Linked DNA regions of Homo sapiens: region 1 is linked to region 2. Evidence: fine-mapped expression QTL. A gene starts in region 2. The other region holds a variant in brackets. All regions are shown on one strand. Distances are from middle to middle.

Region 1 (15,952 bases), 36 kb before region 2:
ACAAGTAAAAAAAAAAAAAAGGAGAAATAGATGATTGGAGGGAGAGAGGAAGGGAAAGAGGGTGGAAAAGAAAGAAAAGAGAGAGGGGCCGGGCTTGGTGGCTCATACCTATAATCCCAGCACTTTTGGGAGGCCGAGGTGGGCGGATCACTTGAGCTCAGGAGTTGGAGACCAGCCTGGGCAACACAGCGAAACCCTATCTCTACAAAAAAAAAAAAAACAAAAAAAACAAAAAAACCGAAAATTAGCCGGGCTTGGCGGCATGCACCTGTATTCCCAGCTACTCAGGAGGCTGAAAGGTAGGGAGGACAATCACTTGAGCCTTGGAAGTCGAAGTTGCAGTGAGATGAGATTGCACCACTGTACTCCAGCCTGGATGAGAGAGCGAGACCCTGTCTCAAAAACAAAAAAAAAAGAGAGAGATAGAAAGAGACATAGGGAAAGAGAGAGAGGGGAAGGAAGGGGAGAGAAGGAGGAAACTGATCAATCAACGGAAGGATAAATGGATGGATGGATAGGATGGACACAATACTAACAGATACATGGATGAGTGAGTTCATGGCTATAAGGAGATTTAAGCTCAGAGATAGAAAAAGGTTTGCCCCAATTACATGGCTGTTAAGAAGTTGGGACTCCAACCCAGATCTTTTTGATTCCCTGTTAATGTCACAGGACCAGTGACATTAATGTCACATTAATGCAGTGACATCTTTTACACCAGTCTCCCTGTCTCTCTCCACACTCCTGTCACACTGGCTTTCTTTCAAGATCTGCAATGCAGCAAACTCTCCCAGCTTGTCTATCCATACTTTGACATCTTCAATGTCACCTCCCCAGAGAGGCCCTCTCTAAATCCCTGAGGACAGAACGATGAAAAAGATAAAGATGATGTCTGTTTTCATGGAATTTGTAGCTTGGTAGGAATTTGGTGCTGGCGTTATTATTAAACTCACACCTGCATTACCCCTGGGGGTGCACAGGAAGGTGTTGATATAAAAGTGTTTTATGAAAGTCTTGGCCGGGCGCGGTGGCTCACGCCTGTAATCCCAGCACTTTGGGAGGCCAAGGTGGGTGGATCACTTGAGGTCAGGAGTTGGAGACCAGCCTGGTCAACATGATGAAACCCTGTCTCTACTAAAAATACAAAAATTAGCCAGGCGTGGTGGCACACACCTGTAATCCTAGCTACTTGGGAGGCTGAGTCAGGAGAATTGCTTGAACCTGAGAGGCGGAGGTTGCAGTGAGCTGAGATTGTGCCACTGCACTCCAGCGTGGGCAACAAGAGCGAAACTCTGTCTCAAAAAAAAAAAAAGAAAGAAAAGAAAAGAAAACATTTGATCCAAGAAGAAAACCAAGGCCCAGAAAATAAAAGGAACCTTCCCAAGGCCACACAGTGATTCAGGGCACAGCTTGGGCTGGAACCTAGAGGCAGAGGTTGTAGTGAGCTGAAATCGTGCCACTGCACTCCAGCCTGGGCGACAGAGTGAGACTCCATCTCAAAAAAGAAAGAAAGAAAACCGAGTTTAAAATCCCACCTCTGCCATCATGCCATCATTGATTGTGTGCCCATGAGTAATTCATCTGACTTCTCTGAGCCTCAATTTCCTCATTTATAAAATGGGGGAAGCTGTGTGTGGTGGCTCATGCCTATAATCCCAGCACTTTGGGAGGCCAAGACAGGCAGATCACTTGACGTCAGGAGTTCGAGACCAGCCTGGCTTATGTGGTGAAACCCTGTCTCTACCGAAAAATACAAAAATTAGCCAGGCGTGGTGGTGCCTGCTTGTAATCCCAGCTACTTGGGAAACTGAGGCAGAAGAATCACTTGAACCCAGCAGGCGGAGGTTGCAGTGAGCCGAGATCATGCCATTACACTCCAGCCTGGGAGACAAAGGGAGACTCTGTCTCAAAAATAAATAAGTAAATAAAATGGGGGATAGTAAGCCCTGCCTAATAGTGCTGTTGTAAGGATTTGAACTGGAAGTACAATAAACTGAAGTGTTGTTTATTACTGAGGGCTACATTTCACAAGATGCAGCATTTTATTTAGACCTTCAGCTCCAAGAATGCAACAGTCCTTGCAGACCTCAAGTCTCAAATCTAAAAGAGCATTTAGAGACCATCAAATTCTGAGCCAACAATAGGGCTTGGAACTCTTCCACCTTTGAGCCTGCTATAGCCCCTGGGCTTCCCTGACCTCTCAACACGCTATAGTGCTTAAAACATCTCAGCATGAAACAGTGTTTGGGGACTCCATGTTCAAACCTTGAAAAGCGTTTGGACAGCTTCCAATTCCCAGCCAACAACAGGGCTTAGAACTCTCCAATTTTTGAGACCTCTATAGTCCTTGCGCTTTCTCTAATGCCTAGCATGCAACAGTGATTGGAAATCCCAGGTCCAAATCTAAAACAATGTTTGGACACCCTCCAATCCTTAGCCCGGTTGTTGGGGTTCTCCCATCTTTGAACCTACTATAGCCCTTGGGCTTCCCCTCAACTCCAAGCATGCAACAGGGCTTGGAGATCCCACCTCCCAGCGTGCAACAGTGTGTGGAGATCCTACTCCCAGCATGCAACAGTGTGTGGAGACCCTACTCCCAGCATGCAACAGTGCATAGAGATTCCATCTCTGAGCGTGCAACAGTGCATAGAGACCCCATCTCCCAGCATGCAACAGTGCCTGGAGATCCTCCCAGCATGCAATGTCCTCAGCCTCCAGGCTCTGAACCCTCACCTGAGAGGCCAAAGCAGACGGCTCCAACTCGGAGCAGGAACTCTGCACCTTTACTGAGCACCATGATGATACAGAGGCACCCCAAGGCCATGACTGCCAGGCCCAGCACTGCTATCACCGCAGCTGCCAGATTCACCTCTGCCAGCAGGAGAGAGGAAAGAAGCAGAGAACATGGGATGTAGGGAATGAGGAGGATTCACCCATAGGAACCCAGAACCAGGAAGATGTAAGATTCGGGACGAGAGAAGAATTTTCAAGTAGAGTATCATCCAGCCCAACATTTTACTTACACTGTTGAAGGAATTAAGACTCAGAAAGGGTCAGTTATTTCTCTAAAGTCACTGAGCAAAGGGAGGAGAGGGCCAGGATTAGAAAGAGTTGAGAATTACCAACTATTACTTAGGATCTGGTTACCACTGGTTTACAGTTGAGGAAGCTGAGGCAGTGGGGTGTGTGGGAGACGATGGCAAAGGCAGTGTGCTACAGTGGAATGATCCAGGTTGGAAATCTCACCAACTACTTCCTACATGGAAGATTCTAGTAGGATTTTCCAGATTCCAGTAGGAATTTAGGCTGAACCCTTCTCAGCCTAAATTTCCTCCTGTGGACCAGGTGCGGTGGCTCACACCTATAATCCCAGCACTTTGGGAGGCCAAGGTGGGTGGATCACTTGAGATCAGGAGAGTTCAAGACCAGGCTGGCCAACATGGTGAAAAATTTTCCTGGGAAGAATAATTGTAACCATTCCTGGACTTCTGGAAGATGGAAGATAAAGCCCCCACCCTGCAGGGCTACTGCGAGGACTGGAGATCTTACAGATGGAGTGCCCAGCACTGTGGTCAGTACTTGATGCCTGCAGGTTTGTGAGATGTCCAAGTGCTACCCACAGAGAGGGGCTGCGACTTGCCCGGGGTGACACAGAACGTGGCATAGGCAGAGATGGGGTAAGAGCTCTAGGCACAGCTAGGTGCAGTGGCTCACGCCTGTCATCCCAGCACTTTGGGAGGCTGAGGAGAGGGATCACCTGAGGTCAGGAGTTCAAGACCAGCCTGGTCAACATGGTGAAACCCCATCTCTACTAAAAATATAAAAATTAGCTGGGCATGATGGTGGGCGCCTATAGTCTCAGCTACTCAGGAGGCTGAGGTAGGTGAATTGCTTGAACCTGGGAGGCGGAGGTTGCAGTGAGCCGAGATTGTGCCACTGCACTCCAGCCTGGGTGACAGAGCAAGACATCATCTCAAAAAAAAAAAAAAAAAAGAGTTCTCTAGATTCTCTAGAGCACCATGTCCCCATCATTAACTCTCCCGCCAGCACTCCCCAGGGGACAGCCACAGATTATAGACACGAGACCTGCCCTGGGGTAAAGCAGAGGAGGGGATAACTCTCTCTAGAACTCCTCCAGCACGCTCAGCATTTCCCCCACCTGTCACCCAGCAGGGGGTGAAAAGTTCTCACCTTTCTTTGTGGTTCTCTGAAAGATGCGTGCATTCTCCCCCGTGGTGAAGAATTTAAAATAGGTGCAGTTTGCTTCTGTGGGAGCAGGAGAGAGAAAACAGACATGAGGATGTGAGGTCCCTTGCGTAAGCTCAGGGCTGGACAGTTAACAGCCCACGGGAGCCTAAAACTTGGACATCAGCATCCCTGATACACAGAGGAGAAAAATGATGCCCAGAGGTGTGAAAGCCACCTGCGACCACACTGCCATCTAGGAGCTGGGACTCCTACCCGGGGCTCTGAGCCCCAGACCTGTGGCCCCAAGTGCGCCATTAGCCTCTCTGGGTCTCTAGTTCCTCCTCTTTAAAACGAGATAATAATCTCTTTCCTGGCCCCTTCGTATGGGTTTGTTGAGGGTCAAGTGGGATTACATATGGATAATCACTTGATTCAACAAAGGATACCAAGATACAAGTAGCAGAAGACTAACAGACTCAGAAAGGAATCCTGTCTCAGGAAGGATTCCTACCTAGAACACACAAAGAGCTCCTGCGGATTAGCAAGAAGAGAGAGAGAACCCAGTTGACAAATGGGCAAAGGGTATGAATAGTAATTCACAAAAGAGGAAGCCTGGGTAACTCATAAGTCCATGGAGAGATGCCCCACTTCACCAGGGATCAGAGAGAGGCAGCCGGAATCAGCAGGGAGCCACCACTTCCCATCAATTAGATTGGCCAACATTAAAAGGGTCATATCAAGCGTTTGAAAAGATAAGAGGAAACACCGTGTATGAACGGGTACTCCTAGTCTTTTGGGAAGGCACTCTGAGGTACTTTATGAAATGAAGAATGTTCATAGCCTGTGGCTCAACAATTTCATTGCAGGGTATAACTCCAGAAAAAAAAAACAAAACAGGAATATATATGCAGATGTTTACAGCAGCACTGTTTATAAGTAACATGGAGTCAGAATCAAGTCAGGTGTCCATCTAATGGGGAACAGACAAGTAAATGACACAGACAGTCCTTGTGAAAATCTCTCCAGTACATATAGCCATGAATTAGAATAACCTAAAGCAAGATGGAGAGATTTGAGAAACACAGTGTTGATCAAAACAATAATGATAATTAATATTAATAATTTAATTTAAAAATCCAAAAATTGAGGCCAGGAAAGGTGGCTCACACCTGTAATCCCTGCACTTTGGGAGGCCGAGGCAGGAGAATCACTTGAGCTCAGGAGTTTGAGACCAGCCTGGCCAACGTGGTGAAACCCCGTCTGTACCAAAAATACAAAAAATCAGCTGGGTGTGGCAGCACACACCTGTAATCCCAGCTACTCGGGAGGCTGAGGCAAGAGGATCCCTTCAGCCTGGGAGGCAGAGGTTGCAGTGAGCCAAGATTGTACTACTGCACTCCAGCCTGGGTGATAGAGTGAGATCCCATCTCAAAAAAAAAAAAAAAAAAAAAAATCCCAAAGATCAGACAAAATCAATAGCATGATCTCATTTATGTAAAACACACATATAAACTAACACTATATATTTTCCAAGTCAAAATACATATCTGTGAGTGTATATCAAACACATTAAAGAGATGAGCTGGAAAAGAACGAGGAAAAAATAATATAAAACAAAGCACAGGGCCGGGTGTGCTGGCTCATGCCTGTAATCCCAACACATTGGGAGGCCAAGGCAGGCAGATCACTTGGGGTCAGGAGTTCGAGACCAGCCTTGTCAATATGGTGAAACCCCATCTCTACTAAAAGTACAAAAATTAGCCGGGAGTGGTGGCACATGCCTGTAATCCCAGCTACTCAGGAGGCTGAGGCAGGAGAGTCGCTTGAACCCGGGAAGCAGAGGTTGCAGTGAGCTGAGATGGCACCACTGCAATCCAGCATGGGTGACAGAGCAAGACTACATCTCAAAAAAAAAAAGAGAGAGAGAGAAATTTTAAAGTTAAGAAAGACAGAAAAAGGAAGAAAGGGAGAGAAGGAAGGAGAAATGAAGGAAGGGAGGGGAGCACTTTCTGAAGTGCATTTTAGACCCAGAAATTCCCTCAGAATTCACCTAGCCTGACCTACTCTCTTATTCTACAGATGGGGAAACTGAGGCACAGAAAGAGAGAAGAGAGGTCGAGAATAACAGGAGTAAAGGCCATAGAAGAGGGACCAGGCAGTCCATGAATGTGAAAAATTGAACTTTTCAATTTGAACAAGGATATGAAGGGACAAGAAATCAATCCCTGAGTCAGGTGAGGTGGTGTGGGCGGGCGCTCCCCAAGTACCCCGAGGGGAGGTGAAGGGGTGAGATGTCCGGCCAGGAGGAGTGGGATATGTGAGTTCTTATGCAGCAGCAAGAGGTAGAGGATGCTGGGCTGCGCGTGGTGGCTCATGCCTGTCATCCCAGCACTTTGGGAGGCCGAGGCGGGCAGATCACCTGAGGTCAGGAGTTTGAGACCAGCCTCGTCAACATGGTGAAACCCCGTCTCTACTAAAAATACAAAAATTAGCCGGATGTTGTGGTGCATGCCTGTAATCCCAGCTACTTGGGAGACAGAGGCAGGAGAATTGCTTGAACCTTGGAGGCAGAGGTTGCAGTGGGCCGAGATCGTGCCATTGCACTCCAGCCGGGGCAACAAGAGCAAAACTCCATTTCAAAGAAAAAGAGGTAAAGGGTGCTTCACGTCACTGAGCGAAGGGTGCAGGTGCTCTTTGAAGCAGTCATTGCGGGAAACACGGTCTACATCCACAAGGGAAGTGTGACGGCCCTTCTGGGACAATGTAGGTTGCCTGGCATCCTCTTTTGGCTACTAATAGTTTAGCACATCCCAATTCGACCACCCCCAAACATGACACATCCCATCTGGAAAAGTGCAGGGTAAGGGTCACCCCCACATTCCATACTTATAGCCAAGGGAGCCAGGGATGCCTTTTGATGGGCAGTGGTGAGTGTGAGATATTTCTCTGAGATAATGAAGATTGAGAGATGTCCTCTGAGGGGTTGGGTTTGTAAGATAACGTTAATGGCCCTGCTGGAAGACTGAAGTCCTTTCTGATCAATGGAGGGGACAGCAAGGGATGCAAGGAACCCCATACAATGCGGTGAGATGGGATGGGCCACCCCTCCATTGTCCCAGGACCTTTGACCTTTGGGATCTCTTGATGGACCAGTGAGATGTGATATAATGCAGTTGTTGAGAAGAGAGGCAACCAAGCTTCAAATTCCATCTAACTAGCCTGGGTGCATAGACCGAGCCACCGAGATTTCTCGCCCCCTCATTTTTCTCTTCTCTAGAACGGGAGTGATAATAACGACTCATAGGCTAGCTATGATGCTTGATGAGTTAATGTACATAAAACACTGAGATGAGAACCAGGCATTACATAAGCAGCTACTATTCTTATTACTGGGGACTCCCATTTTGCAAAAGTTTGAGATCATCCTTTATGAGACCCCTGAGGGGCCAGAGACAGCCCATCTGCAGAAATAAAATGATCAAGGGTAGCCCATCTGGACACCAAGTGGGTAGCTCAGACAGCCGGGGGGCCTGGCATCCCACTGTCCTATCGAGGGCTTGGGACATCCTATTTTGCACTCTACACATATAAGATATCACATCTGGAGAAGTGAGGGACGAGGGAAATCTCATACGGAGCCCAGAAAAATAGGCCATATTCTTTGAGGGGCACTGGGATGATAGGACCGTCTTTGGAGACTGAAGAGTGCTGGAGATCTCATATGGGTGATCAAATATATGACAGCCCAAATGGGCTCTGAGGAGTGCCAGGTATTTTCCATGGGTCAGTGGAGGTAGAAGGAGATTTCATCCAGTTCCCAAGGGGTATAGAATGTCCCCCTGGTATAAGCACAAGCCGTGGCGTGGCGTGTCAGGGAGGTATGGAACAGCTCTCTGCCATGCCCAGGGATAAAACAGCCATGATTTGGGAAAGGAGGGAGTATGGGAATGTCTCTCGGAGAAAATGAGAAACGCTGAAATGTCCAGTCTGGGCATTTGGAGGCGAGAGGACAGGAAGTGAAGAACATTGCAGGGAAGGAACAAGGTCTGCCCTCGGGTGTTGGGAGGCGTCTGGTGAGAGCTTGGTTTGGTGGAAGCAGTAGGTGGGGAACAGGCATAGATCCTGCTTTGGGGTGGGCGTCTGTCTCCCCAGGGCTCACAGGATGGGAGCGCAAGCTGTCTCCAGGCTGGGAAGAGGAAGCTGACACCAGGAACCCAGGCTGTCTCTCCATGGGCACAGGCTGTCTGTGGGCACATGCAGAGTGGGCACGGGCTGTCTCCAGGGCACAGGCACTTCCAGAGGGTGCAGGCTGTCTGGGGTGGGCACAGGCTATCTGAGGACACCAGCTGTGTCTGGAATCACAGGCTGGGTCTGGGGACACAGGCAAGATTTTTCTAGTGACACAGGCTCTCTCTAGAGCTGTAGGCTGGTCTGGGGGGACACAGCGATGCCTGGGAACATTGGCTGTGTGGGGGCAGGGACTTTGGGGGTCATAGAATCATCTGGGACCATAGCCTGGTGTGGAGGTGCAGGCTGATCTGAGGGCACAGGCTGGTGTAAGGATGCAGGCTGGTCTGGGGGTATAGACTGGTCTAGGGGTGCATGTTAGTCTGGGGGTGGAAACTGTAGCTGGGGACACAGGCTCATCTGGGGGTACAGGATAGTCGGGGTACAGGATGGTCTTGGGGCACAGGCTGTAGGCGGGGGCACAAGCTCTCTTTAGAGGTGCAGAATAGGGGTACAGACTCGTCTGAGGGGGTCTCAGGTCACAGCCTGGTCTGGGGGTACAGGATGGCCTGGGGGCACAGACTCCCTGTAGGCACATTCTGGTCTTGGGGTACAGTCTGTAGCAGGAAAGCAAGCTCTAAGGCACAGGTTCTCTGGCGGTAGGCCCGTGAGGGACCTGGGCCATATCTGGGGGATCCCTCTATCTCTCAGCAGTTTCTGAGAGCAGAGGACGAAGTGGGCACTGGCGCTTACTGCGAGGCAAGCTGTCTCCTCCGGGCTCAGGCTTTTGTCCCTGGGGCGGGTTTTCTCCTCGGACACGGGCCCCTCTCCCTCCCTGTCCGTGGGACGCAAGCCCTGCGCTCGGGGCGGCGGCTGCTCACCTCCGGGCAGCTCCGCGGGGCCGCAGGTGTCCCTGTCCACGGGCACGTCCGCCTGCCACAGCCGCTTGGTGCACGCCTTCCACAGCCCCAGGTGGGCCGCTTCGCACACGGCGCTGCCGTTGGCCTTGTAGGTGTTGAGCTCCACCCAGAACTCGGTGCCCACGGACAGCACCGCCAGCGTGGCGCCCACGGCGGCCAGCAGCAGCGCCAGCTTCACCTTCCCCTCGCGCTCGGGCGTCAGCCCCGACCTGCCCTGCCCGTGCGCCCGCCGCCGGCCCGCGGCCCCCCGCCGCCGGTTCTCCTCTTGCAGGAAGAAGTTGGACCACATCATCTTATGGCCGGTGGGGTCGGGAAGGGGGAGGAGGCAGAGCCGGCGAAGGGCCTCGAGGGGCGGGAGCGAGGAGCGGCCTGGGGTCTTGAAGGGGGTGAGGGACTCAGTTTCCCCTGGGTATGAAAGAGGGAGAGCCGAGTCCTGTCTGGAATCTCAAATGCGAAAGTCGAGATTGCTTCTGGGGTTCAGAAGAGAAAAA[T/C]GATCCCCAGGGCTGGGGAAGCCTCTGGGGTTCAGAGGAGGGTCTAGGTTGCCCTCAAGAACTTGGCAAAGAAGACGGGGCCCAGAGGAAAAACAAGGCCCCCACCCTGAGGTTTAGAGATAGAATTCGGCTTCCCAGGAGGGAGTCCCCCCAAGAGCTCCAGAGGAATGAGAACTGGTGCCCGCTGAAGCTCCCTGCAGCTCCAAGGGGCTGCTTTGGGGTCCCCGCTGGGGGGTTAACAAAAGGGAAACTGGTTTTCCTGAGAGATCTGAGCACCCCACTAGGGCTAAGAGTTTGGGGTACCCAGGAAGGGACCTGAGGTCCTGTGTGTGTTTGGAGGAGATGTGGCCGGGGTTCCCTTGGGCTCAGAGTTTGAGAACAGAGGACTTGGGGACCCTCTGGGATTCGGAAAAGGAAGACCTGGGGTCCCGGGAAGCTCCCAAGGGGAGGTCGGAATTCAATCCGGGTCTCAAGAGAGGCAGTAGGACCCCGGCATCCACAGAAGGAGAAGAACAGAGCCCTGGCTGGGGCTCAGAAGAGGACTGGGCCTCGCTGGAATTCAGGAAAAGGGGATAGGGGTCTCCCCTGCCATTCAGAAAAGATCCGAGGTCTCTACTGAGCCTGGAAAAGGGGCCGGTGGCCGGAAGACAGAGTGGAGTCCAGAGGCGGGAGGCTACGGGGCCTCCCCGAGGGCTGGGGCAGATGGGACCGGGGGCCCTCCTGGGGCTCACACTATGGGGCTGTGGTCCGCACTGCGGCTCGGAAAACCAGGACTGAGTCCCCCCAGGGTTCAAAGGCCAACCGCGACCCGCAAGAGACGCTGCGCCCCTTCGGGATCAGTCCGTCTCCCTCCCCCGGGCTCCCAGGGCCTTCCCGGTCGGGTTCGCGCCAGGCTCAGCCCCAGGCCAGGGCCCCCCCTCGGGGCTCCCACCCCCGACTCCCGAGCAGGGGCCCCTCTCGCTCTCCTGCCTCGGCCCCGCGCCGACCCCAGCTCCGCGCTGCCTCCGAAGCGTCCGGCTGTGCCCGCCACCGCCACCGGCCTGGCCTCCGCCCGCGCCCGGCCTCGTCCCCACCCGCCCACCCCCCACCCTCCACCCTCCACCCTCGGGGCTATTTCGGGCTTGACCCGTAAATAACACCCGCACCTGTCGCCCGGCGCCTGTTGCCATAGGGATCCCGGGTGTTTTAAGGGGACGAGGAAGGGGGGAGGGAGGCCGCCCGGGGAGGAAGGGGCCGAGCCTGATGGGACTTTCATTTCACTAAGGGGCAAGAGCGGCGCCGAGAGTCCCAGCTCCGCAGTCTCCCGGGCAGCAGGAGACGGGCGGGGCAGCAAGTCTGACTGGGGTTACCAGGGAGGAGGGGCGGGAGGCAGGGCCCCGGGTCTCAGGGAGGAGGGCCTGAGGCCAGGAGTCTTGGGTCCCTAAGGGAGAAGAAGCCTCGGTACCCCACTTCTGAGTGGTAGAGGAAGAAGGCCTGGGTACCCAGAATCTTGGATCTGAGAGGAGAGGAACCTGGTCTCCTAGGTCCTGGGCTCCTGAGTCTGAGGGAGGAGGGGCTGGGGGCCTGAACTCCTGGGTCTGAGGGAGGAGGGGCTGGGGTCTGGACTCCTGGGTCTGAGGGAGGAGGGGCTGGGCCTGGGCTCCTGAGTCTGAGGGAGGAGGGACTGGGGCCTGGACTTCTGGGTCTGAGGGAGGAGGGACTGGGGCCTGAACTCCTGGGTCTGAAGGAGGAGGGGCTGGGGGCCTGGACTCCTGGGTCTGAGGGAGGAGGGGCTGGGGGCCTGGACTCCTGGGTCTGAGGGAGGAGGGGTTGGGGGCCTGGGCTCCTGGGTCTGAGGGAGGAGGGGCTGGGGGTCTGGACTCCTGGGTCTGAGGGAGGAGGGGCTGGGGCCTGGACTCCTGGGTCTGAGGGAGGAGGGGCTGGGGGCCTGGGCTCCTGAGTCTGAGGGAGGAGGGGCTGGGGGCCTGGACTTCTGGGTCTGAGGGAGGAGGGACTGGGGCCTGAACTCCTGGGTCTGAAGGAGGAGGGGCTGGGGGCCTGGACTCCTGGGTCTGAGGGAGGAGGGGCTGGGGGCCTGGGCTCCTGGGTCTGAGGGAGGAGGGGCTGGGGGCCTGGGCTCCTGGGTCTGAGGGAGGAGGGGCTGGGGGCCTGGGCTCCTGGGTCTGAGGGAGGAAGGCCTGGGCCTGGACTCCTGGGTCTGAGGGAGGAGGGGGCAGGGGGCCTGGACTCCTGGATCTGAGGGAGGAGGGGCTGGGCCTGGACTCCTGGGTCTGAGGGAGGAGGAGGGCCGGGGAGCCTGGACTCCTGGTCAAGGCGTTGGCAGACCCAGAGTCCTGGGCCTCAGGGAGGAGACTGGGGCCAGAACCCTGGGTCTTGAAGGATGGAAGGCCTGATTTCCATGTTGGAGAAAGCGCAGGCCTCAGGGCAGGGCCGGCTGTCAGGGGCACAGAATGAAAGCAGCACTCCTCTTCATCGAGTTTATTAGACGGGGCACCCCTGGGGGACCTTCCATGCAGTTTCAGCTCCCCCAGGAGCAGGGACAGAGGACAGCCGTGTGGCATGGCGGCAGGGCCTGATCTTCAACCCCTCACCCCCTACCCCTCAGCCCTTCTGTGGACGGCCCAGGTGGGACCCACCTTTCACCAACTCCTTCTTCTCCCACAGTTGGCTGCTCCAGGCAGGCCTGGCGCTGACCTGAGCGAGGCTCTGGTGCACGCTGGGCCTCTCTGCCCACCCCCTGCTCTGGACTTTTCCGATGGAGCACGTGTTTCCCCGCAGTGTGATTGTCTGTGTCTGGTTCTTCCAGCAGACTGGGGCCGGGGCCAGGCACAGGAGGAATTCACCTTGGCATCCTCAGCTCTACCCGGCACAGGGCCAGGTCACAGGCAGTCTTGGAAAATGTGCATGGGGTGACTTGAATGAATGGATGGATGAATGGGCAAAGGAATGACCAGATGGAGTGAGATGATGGCACACAGACATCCCCGCCCCAGCTAGGGGAGGGGCCTGCTGCGTTTCCTCAATGCCCGCGTGGCCCCGTCAGAACACAGCCCCCTCTGTATTCTAATTGTCTGGACTACCTGTCCCCCCCTCTGAAGGCAGAGATGGGACAGAAGTGGCCTGAGATTGCAGGGCCTTGTACTTGGAAGTCCTCAGGAAATATTTTTTTTTCTTTTTATTGATCATTCCTTGATGCTGTGCTTGCTTCTGAGTCTCCACGTTGCTTTCTATGCGAATCTCTGGGTCTTTCTCCGGCTTACGTCTCCCTATCTCTGTGGTTGTGTTTTTGTTATCTCTGGGACTTCTCTGATTTGTGTACCTGTCAGTCTCTCTCCTCCTCCTTTTCTGTCTTCTCTGTATCACCTTCTTGTCTTTGACTTTATTTCTTTGACTTTCTTTCTTTCTGTTTTCTGAGACAGGGTCTTGCTCTGTGGCCCAGCCTGAAGTGCAATGGTGCAATCATAGCTCACTGCAACCTTAAACTCCTGGACTCAAGCAATCCTCCCGCCTCAGCCTCCCGAGTATCTAGGACTACAGGCGTGAGCCACCACGCCACAGCTCATTTTTCATTTTTGTAGAGACGGGGTCTTACTATATTGCCCAGGCTGGTCTCAAACGCCAAGCCTCAAGCAATCCTCCTGTCTTGGCCTCCCAGAGTGCTGGGATTACAGGCATGAGCCCCCAAGCCTGGCCAGAAAGTATTTCCAAGAACTGAGTGAATGTTTATTTCTGAAAATGAATGATGAAAACGTGTTCTTCCCCTTCACCTCAATAGGTCTTGACAGGGTCTACAGGGGGAATCCCAGAGTGTGCCCGGCGCTGACAGCAGCAAGAGACAGGAGCTGGGCAGAGCATCCCTGGCTAGGGGATCTGCCAGAGCCTAGCTGACAGCATCCTCTCTTCCCTGCCCCCTGAATTCATCTTCCCCTCCTGGCCCTGGGCTTCCCCATCTCTCTTGCTCCTGCCTGCTGTGACAGCTAATTGCAGGATGCAATTTTCTGCCTCCCATCTCCCTATCTGCATGTCTCCCTACTTCCTTTCAGGGTCATTTTTTTTTTTTTTTACCTTTTTTCTTTTTTGAGACAGAGTCTTGCTCTGTCACCCAGGCTAGAGTGCAGTGGTGTGATCTTGGCTCACTGCAACCTCTGCCTCCTGGGCCCAAGAGATTCTCCTGCTTCAGCCTCTCAAGTAGCTGGGATTACAGGTGTGCACCACCGCACCTGTCTAATTTCTGTATTTTTAGTAGAGACGGGGTTTCACCATATTGGCCAGGCTGGTCTCGAACTCCTGACCTCAAGTGATCCACCCACTTCGGCCTCCCAAAGTGCTGGGATTACACACGTGAGCCATCGCACCTGGCCTTTGTGTCAGTTACACACACACACACACACACACACACACACACACTTGCCTGAATTCCCTTTCCTTCTGTCTTCCCCCCAAATTCTCTCTCCCCTCCACTCCAGCAGGGCTTCTGTCCCCACCACTGCACTGAACTGACATCTTATCTTATCAAGATCACCAACCCTGTCCATGTCATCAGACCTAATGGTCACTCTGCTCTCTGCATCCTTGTCCAAGTCTCAGCAGCCCTTGGCACAGCTGGCTGTCTCCTCTCCTTCTTGAAACACAAAGGTGCATTTGCCCTCTGTAACCCTCCTGGTTTCAGCCTACCTCGAGATCACTCCTAAGCTCGTTTTGCTACATCCCCTTCTCCCCCAGATGTAGATGTCCCCAAGGCTCTGGCCAGGGTCGCTTCTCTGTCCCCACCCCCCTGCTAGGCCACGTCACCCAATCCTGTGGCTTTATGTTGACGTTTCCAAAACTTACGTTTTTGAGCCACGGCCTCTCTTTCCCCCAAACTCCAGTCTCACATATCCAACTGGCTATTTGATACCACAACTCGGATTTCTCGAAGGCAGATCTATCTTGACACATCCAAAAGAGAAGCCTTGGTTCCTCCCTCCCAAAGCCACTTTCCTGATCCCAGTCTCCTCGTTCCTGGTAACAATCCTCATCGGTGCCCATCAGAGATGTGCGTGCCCAATTCAGAGAGTTCTTCTCTTCCTGGTTCCTTTTCCTTCCCTCCTCTATGACATCCAGTTCACCACCAATGCAGGCTCTAGCCTCCAAAATCCCATGCCTTCTTCCACTTCCTCCATCCCACTAACTCCACCTTGGTCCAGGCCTCCAGCAACCAGAGGAAGGCAACAGCCCGCTACCTCCTTCCTTCCCCTTTGACTCCTGAAGTCTACGTATGCTCAGCACAGCAATGTAATTCTGCTGTTCTTGTTTAAATAAAAATATGAGGCCGGGCGCAGTGGCTCACTCCTGTAATCCCAGCATTTTGGGAGGCCGAGGCAGGTGGATCATTTGAAGCCAGGAATTTCAGATTGGCCTGGCCAACACGGTGAAATCCCGTCTTTACTAAAAATACAAAAAAATTAGCCAGGCGTGGTGGCACATGCCTGTAATCCCAGCTACTCAGGAGGCTGAGGCAGGAGAATCACTTGAACTTGGGAGGCGGAGGTTGGCAGTGAGCCGAGATCAGCCCACTGGACTCCAGCCTGAGACAGAGCAAGACTCTTTTTCAAAATAAATATAAATAAGAAAATAAAAATATGATCATGGCATGCCTGTGCTCAAAACCCTCCAAGCACTTCCCATCAGATCTAGAATAAAATTCAGATTTCTTCCCAAGGATCCAAGGCCCTAACTGATCAGCCCCTACCCTGTGCCTCTGTCCTATGGTGGATCTGCTCACCGCACAGGCCTCCTCGAAGACCTGCTACTTTTCTGGGCTTTGGGGCTGCCTCTGGTGGGTGGAATGCCTGGCCCCCAGACTTTCTCACCTCTCTTTCCTACTCACAATCCACATCTCTGTGACCTCTGCCACAAGGTCTACTCCAAGGACCTCATCTAAAGTCATCCTTGCTCTGTCATTCTGTTACCACTCACTGTCGCCCAGGCTGGAGTGCAGTGGCGCGATCTCAGCTCACTGCAACCTCTGCCTCCTGGGTTCAAGTGATCCTTCTTTCTCAGCCTCCCAAGTAGCTGGGACTACAGGCACACCAGCACACCCAGCTACTTTATTTATTTATTGGTAGAGATGAAGTTTCACCATGT
Region 2 (15,631 bases):
AAACAAAAACAAACACAGAAGCTGGCCAGGCATGGTGGCTCACATCTGTAATCCCAGCACTTTGGGAGGCCTAGGCGGGCCAATCACTTGAGGTCAGAAGTTCGAGACCAGCCTGGCCAACATGGTAAAACCCTGTCTCTACTAAAAATACAAAAATTAGCCGGGCATGGTGGCACACACCTGTGATTCCAGCTACTCGGGAGGCTGAGGTATGAGAATCGCTTGAACCCAGGAGGCCGAAGTTGCAGTAAGCCAAGATCACGCCACTGCACTACAGCTTGGGTGACAAAGCAAGACTCTGTTTCAATAAATAAATAAATAAATAAATAATTTTTAAAAAACAGAACCTGTGGGATGGGGACCCTGATACCCCTACGACTGCACCTCTTACTCCTACGTTCTCCGCCACCCACTCTGCCCCGGCCACGCTGACCTCACACTGGCTTGATCAACACACAGCCACACTCCCACCTCAGGGCCTCTGCGCCTGCTATTCCTACAGTCTGAAGCACTTTCCTCCATCTCTTACTTCCTTCAGACCTGTGATCAAATGTCACCTGCTCGGGGAAGCTTTTCCTAGATTCCTTATCTACTTCCCACGGGGATCCCTGACCCCTCCCATCCCCTCCCCCAACTCCTTGTCCTCCTTAGCACTCAGTTCTATCTAACACCCTAAAGGTTGACTTTACCTCCATCATTATCTGTCTCTCCCTTAGAATATAAGATATATAACGACAGGAGGTTTTGTCTGTTTGTTTTCCACTGCTGCAGCCCCAGAATCCAGAACAATGCCTGGCACATAATATAAACTCAATAAAAATGGGACGTTGAATGAACGAATGAATGAATGAATGACATCCCTACTAGATGCCACGTGCTGTCCTAGGGCTCCCATGATGGGAGCCCTCACACTTGGCTCTATGCCTGGTACTTGGTCAGACCAGTGAATGGACATGAACTCAAACTTCCACAGGAGAGGCAAAGAACATCACGAGAGCCGTGGGAGGAATGGGAGGCGAGACGGAGCAGATGGAGGTGACTGTGGGGAAGTGGAGACCCCCCAGCTGCTGCTCAGATCCGGCCCATCGTGGTCAGGGTAGAACACAGGCTTGTGCTAGATCTTCCGCCAGCTCAGAAGAAGCCGGAAATCAGAACTACAATGGGAAGCCTCCCTATTTTTAACTGTTGGCAATGGATTCAGATTTTGCTTTCAGTTTTAAACACTTTGTACACTAGACAGAGCGCATCTGTGAATCCCATCCATGAGATTCGAGTTCTGCTCTTGGCTCGGCCCCTTTCTCAGCTAGGTGACCTTGGGCAAGTGACTTCACTTCTCTGAGCCTCAGTTTACCCATCCCCAACAGCGAGGTGGTGCCCACCTCATAGGATTAAACGAGATAACGTTCCCGGCTTGTCGTGAACACTCAGCAAAACAGAGGAAGAAGGGGCAGAGGAAATAGAGGGGGATGAAAAAGAGAAGCAAGAGATTTCAATCTTTTGGCCGAAGGGGGCATCAGGATGGCTGGTTCCACTCCTTCACGTTGCAGACAAGGGCTGTGAGGCTGGGGTGCAGGAGGGAAGACAGTGGTCACACAGCAGGGCAGATATGCAGCAGAACTGGCACCCAAGACTCCTGCTTCCCAGCCCCGCAGCTACTTGATACTCAGGAAAGAAATACTGATGCTAAGAGTGGGAGAGAGAAGGGGTTGGCACAGCAGAGGGCAGGAGTCTTGGAGAAGTGGGGAAGTCGAGAGCCAGGGAGCCGAGCTAGGAGAGAAGCTGTGAGAGGGAGAACAGGACAGAGGAAAAGAACCAAGTCGAAGATCCGAGGAGGTAGCAGGGGCAGGAGCGAGAAGCCTTAACGTGAAGGCCTGAGGCATCGAGTCAGGAAGACGTCGAAGGAGGCATGAGTGGAGGAAGAGGAAGTGGAGTCCACTAAAGGAAAAAGGAGGAAAGGACCAGGATGGGAGGTTGGAGGGCACCCTGGTGGGAGAGACATGGGTGGGGGCACTGATGGGAAGAGAAAGATGAACAGGAGGAGAAGCACAAGGCAGAAAAGAGAGAAAGTCATGAGTGAGGGCGAGTTAAGGCACGAAGTTTCAGGGGAGCAGCAGCCAAAGAGAAGGGGAAAGAGACAGACCGGAAGACTGGGCCGTGAAAGGGGGCGGGAGAGGCAGGGGACTTCAGAGGACTGGGGGGGAAATGTCGGGAGAGAGAAGATGTCACGGGGCACGAGGGAGAGGAAATGAAGGGGCAGGTGGAGCGGAGGAGCAGGGTCAAGATGAACTGACGGGAAAGAGGGAGAAAGAGGCTGCTGGGTGCAGTGGCTCATGCCCTTCATCCCAGCACTTTGGAGGCCAAGGCAGGAGGATCTCTTGAGCTCAGGAGCTCGAGACCAGCCTGGGCAACAGGAGACCTCATCTCTACAAATAATAAAAAAAATTAGCTGGGCACAGTGGCTCATGCCTGTGGTCCCAGCTACTCAGGAGGCAGAGGTGGGAGGATGGCTTGAGCCTAGGGATTCGAGGCTGCAGTGAGCTGTGATTGTGCCACCGTACTCCAGCCTGGGCGACAGAGTGAGACCTTGTCAAAAAAAAAAAAAAAAAGAGAAAAGGCACAGGGCAGAGTGGAAGAAATGAAACAGGAGGAGCCCCAGGTACTGGAGAGAGGGAAGATGCAGGGGTGTGATGGGGCAGCGCAGGAGACACGGACTAGGGAAAGATAGGATAAGGGGGTTCAGCGGAGAGGCAGAGGGGCTGCAGAGGGAGCATGCCGAGGAATTCCGCAGGGTGCCAGGACGCAGGGAGGAGTGGGAAGGAGGGGAGAGGAGGTCAGGGGCGCGAGTGGGAAGGCGCAGAAGCCCCTCTGGCAGAGGAGGAGGGGTGCCCAAGGGGGCCCCAGGATCAGGGACAGGCAGCCCCGGGAGGCTCAGGGTCTCTCGGAGGGGAGCGGCGGGGGCTGCGGGGAGGGCCGCCCGCACCCTACCTTCCAGGCAGCAGATCCTCCAGAGGCCCGAGTGCGTGAGGCCGCCGGGGTCCTTCTTCTCCGAGGCGCCGCCGCCCCCGCGGTGGGGGGTCCCGTCGTCGCCGCCGGCCGTGAGGTTGGTGGTGTTGCAGATGAGGGCGCGCGTGTAGAGCCAGTAGTCAGTGCTGATGGCGATGGTCATGAGGCCGAAGGCGGCGAAGGCGCCCACCGTCGTCAGCAGCACCTGCACCCCCTTCTCGCACCAGAGGCCCCGCTCTTCGTTCCAGCGCTTCAGCGACTCCAGTTTGACCACGGGCAGCCGGGGGGCCGTGGGCCACCACCGGGGCAGCGGGGGCGGGGCCGTGCCGGCGGCTGGGGGGGGGTTCACAGCGCAGGCAGAAGCGGGGGGCCCGGGGCCGGCGGGGCTGGGGAGGGGGGCGGCGAGGAGGAGGCTGCGGCCGGGGAGGGGGTCAGAGCGCGGCCATGGTCGGCGGCTGGTGGAGGGCAAGGAGCGAGATCTCGCATTAGAGGAGAAGAAGGCACAGGTACCTCCCCCAGTCCCCGCCCCCCCCCCCCCAAAATCCCTGCCTCAGCTCCAGAAACTCCTTCCACTCGGGGCTCCACTGCTTCTCTTTCTCAAAAATAATAATAATAATAATAATAATAATAATAATTAATAAATAAGATGAAATCTCTCTCCACTCTTGTCTTCTGCCCAAGAAAGTCATCCCACCATCCCACTAACCCCACTCGGAGGAGTCCCCACCACCGCTAATAATTAATAAATAAGATGAAATCTCTCTCCACTCCTGTCTTCTGCCCAAGAAAGTCGTCCCACCATCCCACTAACCCCACTCGGAGGAGTCCCCACCACCGCTAATAATTAATAAATAAGATGAAATCTCTCTCCACTCCTGTCTTCTGCCCAAGAAAGTCGTCCCACCATCCCACTAACCCCACTCGGAGGAGTCCCCACCACCGCTAATAATTAATAAATAAGATGAAATCTCTCTCCACTCCTGTCTTCTGCCCAAGAAAGTCGTCCCACCATCCCACTAACCCCACTCGGAGGAGTCCCCACCACCGCTCACACTCACAGCCCTCGCCCCTAGCCCGCGCCGCCTCCGCCCCAGGGGGCTCCACGATCCTCATCGCATGGGAAGCCACCCCCCGCCATGATGCCAAGCCCCACGCCGCCGCCTCCTCCCCAGGAGCCCCCGTCGCGTTCTTCCTTCCTTAGCGACCCCCGCCCCATCACCATGCGGCGCCCACCAGCTCTCCCCACTCTTCCCCTGCAAGCCCCACCTCTCCACCCGCTAGAACCCTTCCCTGTCAGCCCAACTTTTCCCTGAGCGTCTCCACAACTTAAGAAGCCCGAGTAGCACCACTTCCGTGGGAGTAACCTCCGCGAGCCCCCTCCGGTCTGGCTTTTGTCATTCCATCACTCCAAATGGTCCCCCACAGTTTCCTCTCCTTAGGAAAAAATAAATCTCTCAACCTCTCTTCAACTAAAAAGGAAAAATTAAAAGAAGAAGAAAAAGAAAAAGAAAATCCCAGCTGACCCTCACAGTTTGTGCAACTCGGAATCACCAGCCACCCTCAGTCAGCCTCCTCTCCCTGGAAGCCCCCTTCCTGCCTCGGGCAGCCTCCAACACACCTGGAAATCACCCGAGGACCTTAAAAATTCGGATGTTTGAGTCCCACCTGAGAAAGTCCGACATGGTTGGTCTGCAGTGTGGCCTGCGCATGTAAGTTTTTAAAAGCTCCCTGGGGAATTCTAATGCACCCAACATCAGACCCACTGGTTTGCAAGCTGCCCCCCCCCCGCCATCTCCAGCCCATTCCCTGTCACAGCCCCCACTGTCTCCCCACAAGCCACTCACTCCCCACCCCATACTATGCCTTTACTCCAGGAAAACCCCCACCCTCTCTTTTGCTTTAGAAGAGTTTTCTGAATCTTCCCACCCCGCCACCCCCCCCCCCACAACTTAAACGAACTCATATCATAACCATCGTTTTCTCCTCCATTAAGAAAAATTTCCTCCGTGAGTTCCACGGCATTTTCTACTCGCAAGAATGGCTTCCTCCAGACCCCAAATGTCTCTCCACTCAGGACCATTCCAATCTCTGCCCTGTACTCCCATAGCAGGGGGCACACTGTACCACCCACCCGCCCCTCTGCACTCACAGCAGCTCCCACTGCCTCCAAATCCCCTCCTCGTAGCCCTTCATCATCACACGGGATCTTCAGCACACTGTTTCCCCCAACTTGAGATCCCCCTAACTCACTTTGAAGCCCACTCTCTCTTCAATGTACCAGGAAGCATCCTCCCCAACTTCTCTCTCATCATATAGAATTCCCTTGACTCACTTCCTCTTGCTCCACCGCTATAGCTCCCAGGTTCTCCTCTGCCCCGGAAAATCCCCTCCGCAGGCCCCCACAGGCTTCCCTTCTTGGGAACGCCCCCCAGTACTCCCCTCTACGACTTCACCTGTACAGGAACACACACTGTAGCCCCTCATCTTCTTCCACATGCAGAAAGAGCCCCCCCAGTAGACTGTGTCCCTCTGAAAAATGTGATCCGCAAGACTACAACTCTCTTTTCAATTAGGAATACTTTCCCAGCCTGCACCCGCTGCCCCGTGGCTCCTTCATTTCTCTCTTCCACATTCTCCCCCGACCACCATGCCCCCAGCCCTGCCTGTCTCCCCCACCCCAACTGTCCTCTGGGGGATGTACTCCTTACTTGCTTCCACACTGCTTCTTCAACTTCTTCCCCCAAACCCACTATAGTTAAGAGCCTGGAAACCTTAGACGAAGAGGGGATTAAAAAAAAACAAAACAAAAACCAGAACCTAGGTCCCAGTACAGGGTGACCTTGGCCTCCTGATTGCTTGCCCGTCTCCACTGCCCCCCATCAGCTGGCCTCAGACTGGGGCTGCTCCGAGGAGGGGCTGTGGAAAAAGGTTGTCTATGGGGGGTGTCTCCATGGCAACTGGGCCTAGTGCCCCACACGTTGTGTTCCCTCCCCCACCTCAACTCCCGTCTGCCCACACACAGCCCTTCCTCAGGCCACAGTTCAGCAGCCCGCTGGACAGGGCAACCCCCAGCCTCCCGGCCTGGGCGCCGGCCCCTTCCTCTCTTTTCTGTCCGCATGCTGAGTTTCCTCTCTTCTTGATCTCTTGGCCTCTTCTCCCCGAATTGGTGCCCCTCACCACCAGCAGGGCCACCTACCCTGTCTTAACAGATATCTGCTCTCAGTGGGGTAAGCCTGTGACCCCAGGCCCCTAACAACCTGGGATAAGAGGGGAAGGGAAGAGGAGGGAAAGGAGGGAAATTCTCCTTCCGTCCAAAAAAAAAAAAAAAGATTCGAAGATCTTTTCATTTTGTCAATTTGGGGCACAATCTGGTTTTAGGGACTCTTAGTCCATCGTTCAGCAGCTGCCAGGGAGAAGAGAGCTGGGGACCCCCAATTCTAAAGCTTCCGGATATGAGGGGGTCACTCTCCTTTCTCCTTAGGAAGGGGACCAGCTCTTTTCTCCAGAATTCGGGGGGGGGGATCACAGAACATTAATTCTACCTCCACCCACCTCCGATTAATAAAAAGATCTGTCTCACCTCTGTTAATGATAGGTCAACTCTCCGATGCACGGAGGAGGGGACGTCGAGCCCCCCCTGTTGGCACCCCCCCCAGAAAAACCTTTTGGCTCCCAATTCTCGCTGCTTCCCCCTCCCCCAGCAGTGAGGGACCCAGGCGTCCGACCTGGTTCGGGGAGTGGAGATGAGGAGGCGTATGGGGAATGGGGGTGCTGAGGTCAGGCTGGGGCTGGGGGGCAGCTCTGAGCCTGGGCCCCAAGGGAGTGAGGGTCGGGATATATATATTAAAAAAAAAAGGTGAGGAGACAATTTGGTTCTCGTGTCGCTGGGTAAAGTGCGGAGCTGGAGGACGAGAGGGAGGGAGTAGGGAGGGAGGGGGAGGGGAGCTGCTGAGGGATGGGGAGCCTCGGAGAGGAGATGGATGGGGGAAGGGAAAGAGGGGGGCAGGGTCGAGTGGCAGAAGGAAGCCGGAGGAGAAGAGAGAGATCCAGAGAGGGAGGGAGAGAGACAGAGAGAGACGAGGAGAAACGGAAAGAGAGAGACCCAGAGACCGCGAAACAGAAATGGGGGAGGGAGAAATTTGGGGGAGGCAGCGGCTGGAAGCAGAAGGAAGTTGGAGAGATACACACAGAGAAATATCCAGAGAGAGAAGGGGACAGGGACAGAGACTCAAAGAGAGAAACGCAGGGGCTGGGGGGGAGGGGGTGGGGGAGGGCTGGGGTAAGTGTGTGTGTGGGGGGGGTCAGGATCTGGGAAACAGAAGGAAAGAAGAGAGAGGGAGAGAGTCATCCAGAGAGGAGGGAGGAGGGACAGATGGGGAGAGACAGACAGAAAGAGAGAGACTGAGAGGATGGGGGAGAGAGGGGGGAGAGGGAATGAAATGGAGAGCGGGTAGGGAGAGAAATTGGGGATGGGGGCAAGGTCTTGCTAGAGAGAAGGAAGCTTTAAAGAGAGAAGAAGATGCGGAGAGGGAGCGGGGGAGCAAGATAGTAAATGAAAGAAATGGAGGGTAGAAGGGCCTGGATGGCAGAAGGTACCTGGGGAAAGAAAGGCAAGTGCAGGAAAAGAGGGAGACCCAGAGAGAGACAGACGGAGAGGGACTGAGACAGGAAGAGAGAGAGATCCAGAGAAACAGAGGCAGACACAGAGACTGGGGATGCACCCGAAGGAAGCCCAGAAAAAATAACGGGAGAGGGGTGAGGCTGAGAAGCCCCGAGGAGGTCAGAGATGAAGGATACCCCTGCCCCCGCCCCCTCCCGCGTCCCCAGCCCCGGATCCCTGCCCCCTCCCCCATTCCAATGCCACCACCCCCACCCCCACTAGCCTCCATCTCTCTTCAGCATCGCTTGCCGCCGCCACCGCCTCTTCCTGTCGTCATAGCAACAGGATCCAGGCGCCCAGCCAAGGCTGGCAGCGGCGGCCGGAAATGAGGGGAGGGCCTTTTCAAAAGGACCCCAGGAATGCTCCCCTTTCCCAAAATCCAAGGGAAAGCGCAACTTCCCGGGGTCTTCCCACCGCTCCTCCTCCAAGTGGCGAGGGCAAAGATTCCCCCCCCACCACCCCAGATAAAACAATATTGAACTTACCACGTTAACAAGCCTTTTGACTTTCACCAACAATTTTTTCTTTTCTCTTCTCATCCCCCTCCCCTCCCCTAGTTCAAACCTGATGGGGAAGAAGGGGTAGAGTTAGATGCCCCCGAGATGGGGCTGGGGCTGGGAAGGAGAGTAGAATGCCAAAAGCTTGGGTGCAAATATGTCTTAAAGAAACTTGTCTGGGACTGGGTAGGGGTCTATGCAACAGTTTTGAGAAGCATGGATCTGTCCGTTCTAGAACTAGCTAGTAGGTTGGGGAAGTGGAACAATCGGAGGTGGAAAGTCTGAGATCAGAGTCTGAAAGTTCGGTCTTGGGTCCAAATTTCACGGATGCTCCCAAGGCTTCGTGTGACCTTGGACAAAACACTTCTTCTCCTCTATACTCAGTTGCTCTTGGTTATAAAGGGCACAGAAGCTGCCTCCAACCAAGTGAGAACGCGGATGGGAAGTGGGATTGCACGTGGCTCTAGGCAAGCCGTTTACTCAAGACCCGATCCTCGTAAAAATGTTATCAGAAACTAAGAACTAGTAGCCATGGCTGATTGAAGGCTGTTGGCATGCTTCGCTGTCTTACAGAAGTCCTACAGAATCTTTGCCGTGTGGGCACCAATGTTCCTACATTAACCATGAGTAACCTGAGGCTCTGAGACAATAGGGGTTATGGGGGTGGAGGGCGGCCAACAATAGGTGAAATTCATAGTCATTTAACCCAGCACACCTTTACTGCTCCCTCCTGGGGGCTGGCAGAAACAGGAATAACCTGTGTTCCCTAAATCTATTTACCTAGTGTTTGCTCCTGCTGGTTCCTTCCTTTGGAGGGGCGATATCTTTCAGTCCCCAGCATCTCACATTTCTACTGAAATTTCTTTAGGTCGTTTCACTTAATTCTCACCCCGCCCCATGGGAGAAAGTTTAGACATGCATTCCAACACTCCTGGTTTAGAAGCTAAGAAACACAGCCCCCAAGGGAAGGGGTCTGGAATTCATTCGTTTGAGGAAAGTTGATTATTTTCTGCTCTTTTGCTGGGGGATGCGGGGGGAGATACATCAGCAAACAATGATGATAACCAATATAAACTGGACATTTAGGCTGGGTGCAGTGTCTCATGCCTGTAACCCTAGCAATTTGGGAGGCCGAGGCGGGCGGATCACCTGAGGTCAGGAGTTTGAGACCAGCCTGACCAACATGGTGAAACCCCGTCTCTACTAAAAATACAAAATTAGCCGGGCATGGTGGTGCATGCTTGTAATCCCAGCTACTTGGGAGGCTGAGGCAGGAGAGTCACTGGAACCAGGGAGGTGGAGGCTGCAGTGAGCTGAGATCGAACCGTTGCACTCCAGCCTGGACAACAAGAGTGAAACTCCGTCTCGAAAAAAATAAAAATAAAAACAAACTGGGCATTTAATATTACAGACTCCAAGGAGCCTGAGGGTATTGGTTCCATCTTCAAAAGAAGTGGGTTCTGTTAGCAGCCTCCACTTTAAAGATGTGAAAACTGAGGTTGAGAGGTCAGTTGTATTGGAGGACATTCATCAGGACATCAAATTCCAGAGCCTGTGCTGATACAACTGCACTGGTGAGAACGACTATGAAGATAATTTTTTAAAGCCAGGGTTTCCCAATCTCAACGTTCTCAACATTTGGGCTGGATAATTTTGTGTGGTGGAGGCTGTCCTGTGCATTGTAGAATGCTGAGCAGTACTCCTCGCCTCTATCCACTAGATGCCAATAGCACCTCCAAATAGCACCCTAAAAATAGCATTTGGGGACAACCAAAAATGTCTCCAAACATTGCTCAATGTCCCTTGGGGAACAAAATCGCCCCTGTTGAGAACTATTAAATTATACGAACTAGCAACTGGGGGAAACCTCTTTATTTTATTTTAAATGAAAATATATTTCCTAGTCCAATCAATATAGGCTCATGGTTTAAAAAAAGAAAAGAAAAAAAATCAAATGGTACACAAGGGACTACAATAAAAATAATTTAGCCTGTTCCACCTCAAGTCCTTTTCCTTATTGGAAAAGTCTATTAACATTCTTGTTTTTGCTTTTGTTCTTGTTACTTGAGACGGAGTCTCACTCTGTCGCCAGGCTGGAGTGCAATGGCGCAATCTCGGCTCACTGCAACTTCTGCCTGCCGAGTTCAGGCCATTCTTGTGCCTCAGCCTCCCGAGTAGCTGGGATTACAGACATGCAGCAACATGCCCAGCTAATTTTTACATTTTTAGTAGAGATGGGGTTTCACCATGTTGGCCAGGATGGTGTTGATCTCCTGACCTCTTGATCTGCCTGCCTCGGCCTCCCAAAGTGCTGGGATTACAGGCATGAGCCACCACACCCGGCCGTCTATTAATATTCTTAGCTATTTCTTCTCTTACTTGCCTTGACATCCCTAAATAATGATTTTCTTTTGGAATCAAAATTATACATTATTTATAGATATTTTTTCTCTAATAGATAACAAATCAATTCATGCAGCCCTCACTTTTCCTTCCCTTCTTCCTCAAGTGTTAGTTCTTCTATTGGTAATTTTGTGACACTAAGTGATGCATGATTACATCATGATTTATTTCAACAACTAAAGAGTATATCTCTTTTTTTCACAGCTTTATTGAGATCGAATTCACATATCATGCAATTCACCCACTTAAAGTGTACAATTCAACGGCTTTTAATTGTACAGAGCTGTGCAATCATCAACTTCAGATCACTTTTAGAATATTTTCATTAGTCCAAGGAGATACTGTGTACTCCTTAGCCATCACCCCCAATCTAAGCACCCACTCCAGCCCTAGGCAATCACTAATGTACTTTCTGTCGGTATAGATTTTCCCATTCTAGACATTTCATAGAAATTGAATCATACAACGTATGGTTCTTTGTGTCTGGCTGCTTTCAGGCTAAGTAAGTAATGTCTTTAAGGTTCATCCATGTTGTAGCATGAGCCAGTGCTTCATTCCATTTTATGGCAGAATAACATTCCATGGTATAGCGGGAGATACCACATTTTATTTATTCATTCATGTATCAATGAACATTTGAGTTTCTTCCACATTTTGGTTATTACAAATAATGCTGCTGTGAACATTTGTGTGCACATTTTTGTGTAGACATATGTTTTCATATCTCTTGGGCACATACCTGGCAGTGAACTTGTAGAATGAGTTTAAGGAATGAGATAGCATCTCTTCACTTCATTTTGAAAGATGGGAGTATTACCAGGTGTGGTGGTCCACGCCTGTAATCCCAGCACTTTGGGAGGCCGAGGCGGGCAGATCACCTGAGGTCGTGATTTCGAGACCAGGCTGGCCAACATGGTGAAACCCCGTCTCTACTAAAAATACAAAAATTAGCTAGGCATGGTGGTGCACGCCTGTAATCCCAGCTACTTGGGAGGCTGAGGCAGGAGAATCGCTTGAACCTGGGAGGTGGAAGTTGCAGTGAGCCAAGATCGTGCCACTGTACTCCAGCCTGGACAACAAGAGTGAAACTCTGTCTCAAAAAAAAAAAAAGCCGGGCGCAGTGGCTCATGCCTGTAAACCCAGCACTTTGGGAGGCCAAGGCGGGCAGATCACGAGGTCAGGAGATCGAGACCATCCCGACTAACACGGTGAAACCCCGTCTCTATTAAAAATAAAAAATAAAAAAAATTAGCCGGGCGTGGTGGCAGGCGCCTGAAGTCCCAGCTACTCGGGAGGCTGAGGCAGGAGAATGGCGTGAACCCAGGAGGTGGAGCTTGCAGTGAGCTGAGATCATGCCACTGCACTCCAGCCTGGGCGACAGAGTGAGACTCTGTCTCAAAAAAAAAAGAAAGAAAGAAAGAAAGAAAGATAGATGGATGGGAGTATTGAACCCACTGATCACTCCTTCAGCTCATGGAAGGCCCCTTCAGAAGGGGTGTCACAGAAGAAGCAGGTTGTAGACTTTTATAAGATCTCATTTCTACATTTGCTCACATATTCATTTCACATTAGCCAAGGCCTCTGCTGGGCTTGACCCAGAGACCTAGAGCCTGCAGACTTAGAGATAGGTTTGCTAATCCCTTCCCTTGAGAAGGTCCTCGGTCCTCACTTCCAACTGTGATAGGCAGAATTTTAAAATAACCTCCAAGATTCCCACCGCCTGGTGTACACACCCAAGAGAATCTCCTTCCCTTGGGTGTGGACAAGAGCTGTCACTAGGAGGTGATGCAGTCCCCATGATTATGTGACATTATATGGCAAGGTATGGGATTTTGTAAATATAATTAAGGTCCCTAATCAGTTGACTTCATTAAAAAAGAAATTATCCGGCTGGGCGCAGTGGCTTACGTCTGTAATCCCAGCACTTTGGGAGGCTGAGGTGGGCGGATCACGAGGTCAGGAGATTGAGACCAACCTGGCTAACACGGTGAAACCCCGTCTCTACTAAAAATACAAAAAATTAGCCAGGCAAGGTAGCGGGTGCCTGAAGTCCCAGCTACTCGGGAGGCTGAGGCAGGAGAATGGCATGAACCCCGGGGGTGCGGAGCCTGCAGTGAGCCGAGATCGCGCCACTGCACTCCAACCTGGGCAACAGTGAGACTCCGTCTCAAAAAAAAAAAGAAAGAAAAGAAAAGAAATTATCCCAGGTGGGCCTGGCCTAATCAGGTGATCTCTTAGGAAAGGATCAAGACGTCAGAAATAACCAAAGCAAAGGAGTTGCTGAGAACCCTGAGGAAGCAAACTGTCTTGTCATGGCAAAGACCTGAGAGTGAGTGGCAACTGCTAACTAGAAAACAGAGACCTCAGCCAAACAACTACAAGGAAATGAATTCTGCTCAACCTGTGGGAGGTTGGAAGTAGTTCTCTCCCTAGCCAAATCCCCAGCAGAGGACACAGCCAGCCGGCATCTTAACTTCAGCCTTGTGAGACCCAGAGCTCACCAGGCGCAGTGGCTCACGCCTGTAATCCCAGCACTTTGGGAGGCCAAGGCAGGCGGATCACTTGAGGCCAGGGGTTCGAGACCAGCCTGGCCAACATAGTGAAACCCTGTCTCTACTAAAAATACAGGTGTGCTGCCGCACACCTGTAATCCCAGCTCCCTGGGAGGCTAAGGCAGAAGAATCACTTAAACCTGGGAGGCGGAGGTTGCAGTGAGCCAAGACTGTGCCACTATATTCCAGCCTGGGCAACAGCAAGACTCCGTCTCCCAAAAAATAATAATAACATAAAATTCTCGGCCGGGCGCGGTGGCTCATGCCTGTAATCCCAGCACTTTGGGAGGCTGAGGCAGGCGGATCACGAGGTCAGGAGATCGAGACCATCCTGGCTAACACGATGAACCCCCGTCTCTACTAAAAAATTCAAAAAAAAATAGCCGGGCGAGGTGGCGGGCGCCTGTAGTCCCAGCTACTCGGGAGGCTGAGGCAGAAGAATTGTGTGAACCCGGGAGGCGGAGCTTGCAGTGAGCCAAGATCACGCCACTGCACTCCAGCCTGGGCGACAGAGCAAGACTCCATCTCAAAAAAATAAAAAATAAAAAATAAAATAAAATAAAATTCTCCTATGTCTCCCTATTGCCCTTAGGAGTAAATCTAAGCTCCTCACCTATGTCCTTTTGCCAAGAGCACAAGTCTCATCGTATGCCGCCCCCATTGCTGCCTCCTGCAGACTGAAGGTGTCTTCCCTACCATTCCCAGCTCCTTCCTGTTCTGAGGGTTTCCTGGGTGGTTTTCTTCCGTGGAATCCCCTTCCATCTCAGCCATATGGCAAACCCTCTATCCACTCTTTTTTTCTTTCTGAGACAGGGTCTTGCTCTGTCACCCAGGCTGGAGTGCAGTGGTGGAATCTTGGTTCACTGCAGCCTTGACTTCCCAGGCTCAAGCCATCCTCCCACTTCTTCCTCCCCAGTAGCTGAGACCACAGGCAAGCACCACCACACCCGGCTATTTTTTTTTTTTTTTTTTTTTTTGTATTTTTGGTAGAGAAGGGGGTCTCGTCATGTTGCCCAGGCTGGTCTCAAACTCCTGAGCTCAAGCGATCCGCCCACCTCAGCCTCCCAAAATGCTGGGATTACAGAGCCACTGCACCTGGCACTATCCACTCTTGAGATTCAACTTACACGCTCCTTCCTCCAGGAAGCCTTCCCTGACCTCCCAAGCCTCCATCAGGGTCTACATCAGTGCTCCCACCAGGCCTGCACTGGCTCCTTAAAGCCACAGCAAGGCTATATTGTGATTGACATGTGGGTCGGTCTTCTCCGCACTGGTGCCGGAGCTGTTCAAGGACAGGCACGGGTCTGATTTACTTCCGTGTCCCCTAGATCCCAGCTCAGCCCTGATGGACAGGAGCCCTCGGGTCCAGGGATGATGAACAAATGAATGAATGAATGAACGAATGAATGAGAAAATGAATGAGTCAGGGAATGAGTGGATACATATTCTAGGGTCTCCACCCTCTACGCAGCCAGTTCCAACCTCTTGTCCCTATCCAACCCTTCTCCCTGCCTCACATCCTGAGTGTGTGGTTTTTCCCAGGTGCGCGAGTGTTTCTCATCAACAACAGCTGGGGCCTTTGTGTTTCCTCAAGAGGAACAGGGTGGTGGTGGCATGTCTTCCTGCTGTACCAGGAAGCGTCGATCAGCGTTTCTTAAACGTCCTCATTCAGGGTGAAGTGGAAATATTCCAACGCTGGGGAGCCAGGTGGCTGGAGTTCCAACTCCGGCTCTTCTTTGCCTCCCCAAGGAACCCGGATCCAAAGCTTGATTCTCACTGCAGCTTCCTTCTCTCATTCTCTCATCTGTAGAAGGGGAAGAGGGATACCGTTAGTGATCTCTCTCTTGTTGAGACTGTGATTCGAAATCACACATCCAAGGCATTCTGCCAGAGCTAATGGGATGTCACTGAAGCCCCTGATATTATGTACAGAATATTGTGAGTATAAGTATTTTTTTCCTGGGGGTCCGTAGCTTTTATCTGACTCTCCAAGAGGTCCCTAATCTCCTGCAGATTATCACAGCTGGCAGAGCGCCGTGGCTCATGCCTGTAATCCCAGCACTTCGGGAAGCTGAGGCGGGAGGATTGCTTGAGCCCAGCCTGGGCAACATAGGGAGGCCCCCGACTCTACAAAAAATATATATATTTTTTTGAGATGGAGTTTTGCTTTTATTGCCCAGGCTGGAGTACAGTAGCGCGATCTTGGCTCACTGCAACCTCCACCTCCCAGGTTCAAGTGAATCTCCTGCCTCAGTTTCCTGAGTAGCTGGGATTACAGGCGTCCGCCACCACATCCGGCTAATTTTTTGTATTTTTAGTAGAGATGGGGGTTTCACCATGTTGGCCAGGCTGGTCTTGAACTCCTGACCTCAGGTGATCCACCCGCCTTGGCCTCCCAAAGTGCTAGGATTACAGGGATGAGCCACCATGCCAGGCCAAAAAATAATTCTTAAAAAATGAACCAGGAGTGTAGTCCTAGCTCCTCAGGAAGCTGAGGTGGGAGGATGCCTTGAGCT

What was found. PIP is the estimated chance that this variant, and not a neighbour inherited with it, causes the effect.
Region 1: its variant is fine-mapped to the expression of CACNG8 in whole blood (TOPMed, PIP above 0.99).

Annotation. Positions count from the first base shown.
Region 1 is chr19:53,986,553-54,002,504 of GRCh38, reverse strand. It overlaps CACNG8 (calcium voltage-gated channel auxiliary subunit gamma 8), which reads right to left. Exons shown (of 4, transcript NM_031895.6): 4 at 12,290-15,952. CACNG6 (calcium voltage-gated channel auxiliary subunit gamma 6) reads right to left here and starts at 10,868. Exons shown (of 4, transcript NM_145814.2): 1 at 9,297-10,868; 2 at 4,192-4,266; 3 at 2,734-2,871. The coding sequence starts at 9,627. The variant T/C (reference allele first, on the strand shown) is at 9,827.
Region 2 is chr19:53,950,780-53,966,410 of GRCh38, reverse strand. CACNG8 (calcium voltage-gated channel auxiliary subunit gamma 8) reads right to left here and starts at 3,474. Exons shown (of 4, transcript NM_031895.6): 1 at 2,986-3,474. The coding sequence starts at 3,268. RefSeq lists enhancers at 4,113-4,633, 5,444-6,344, 8,555-9,089.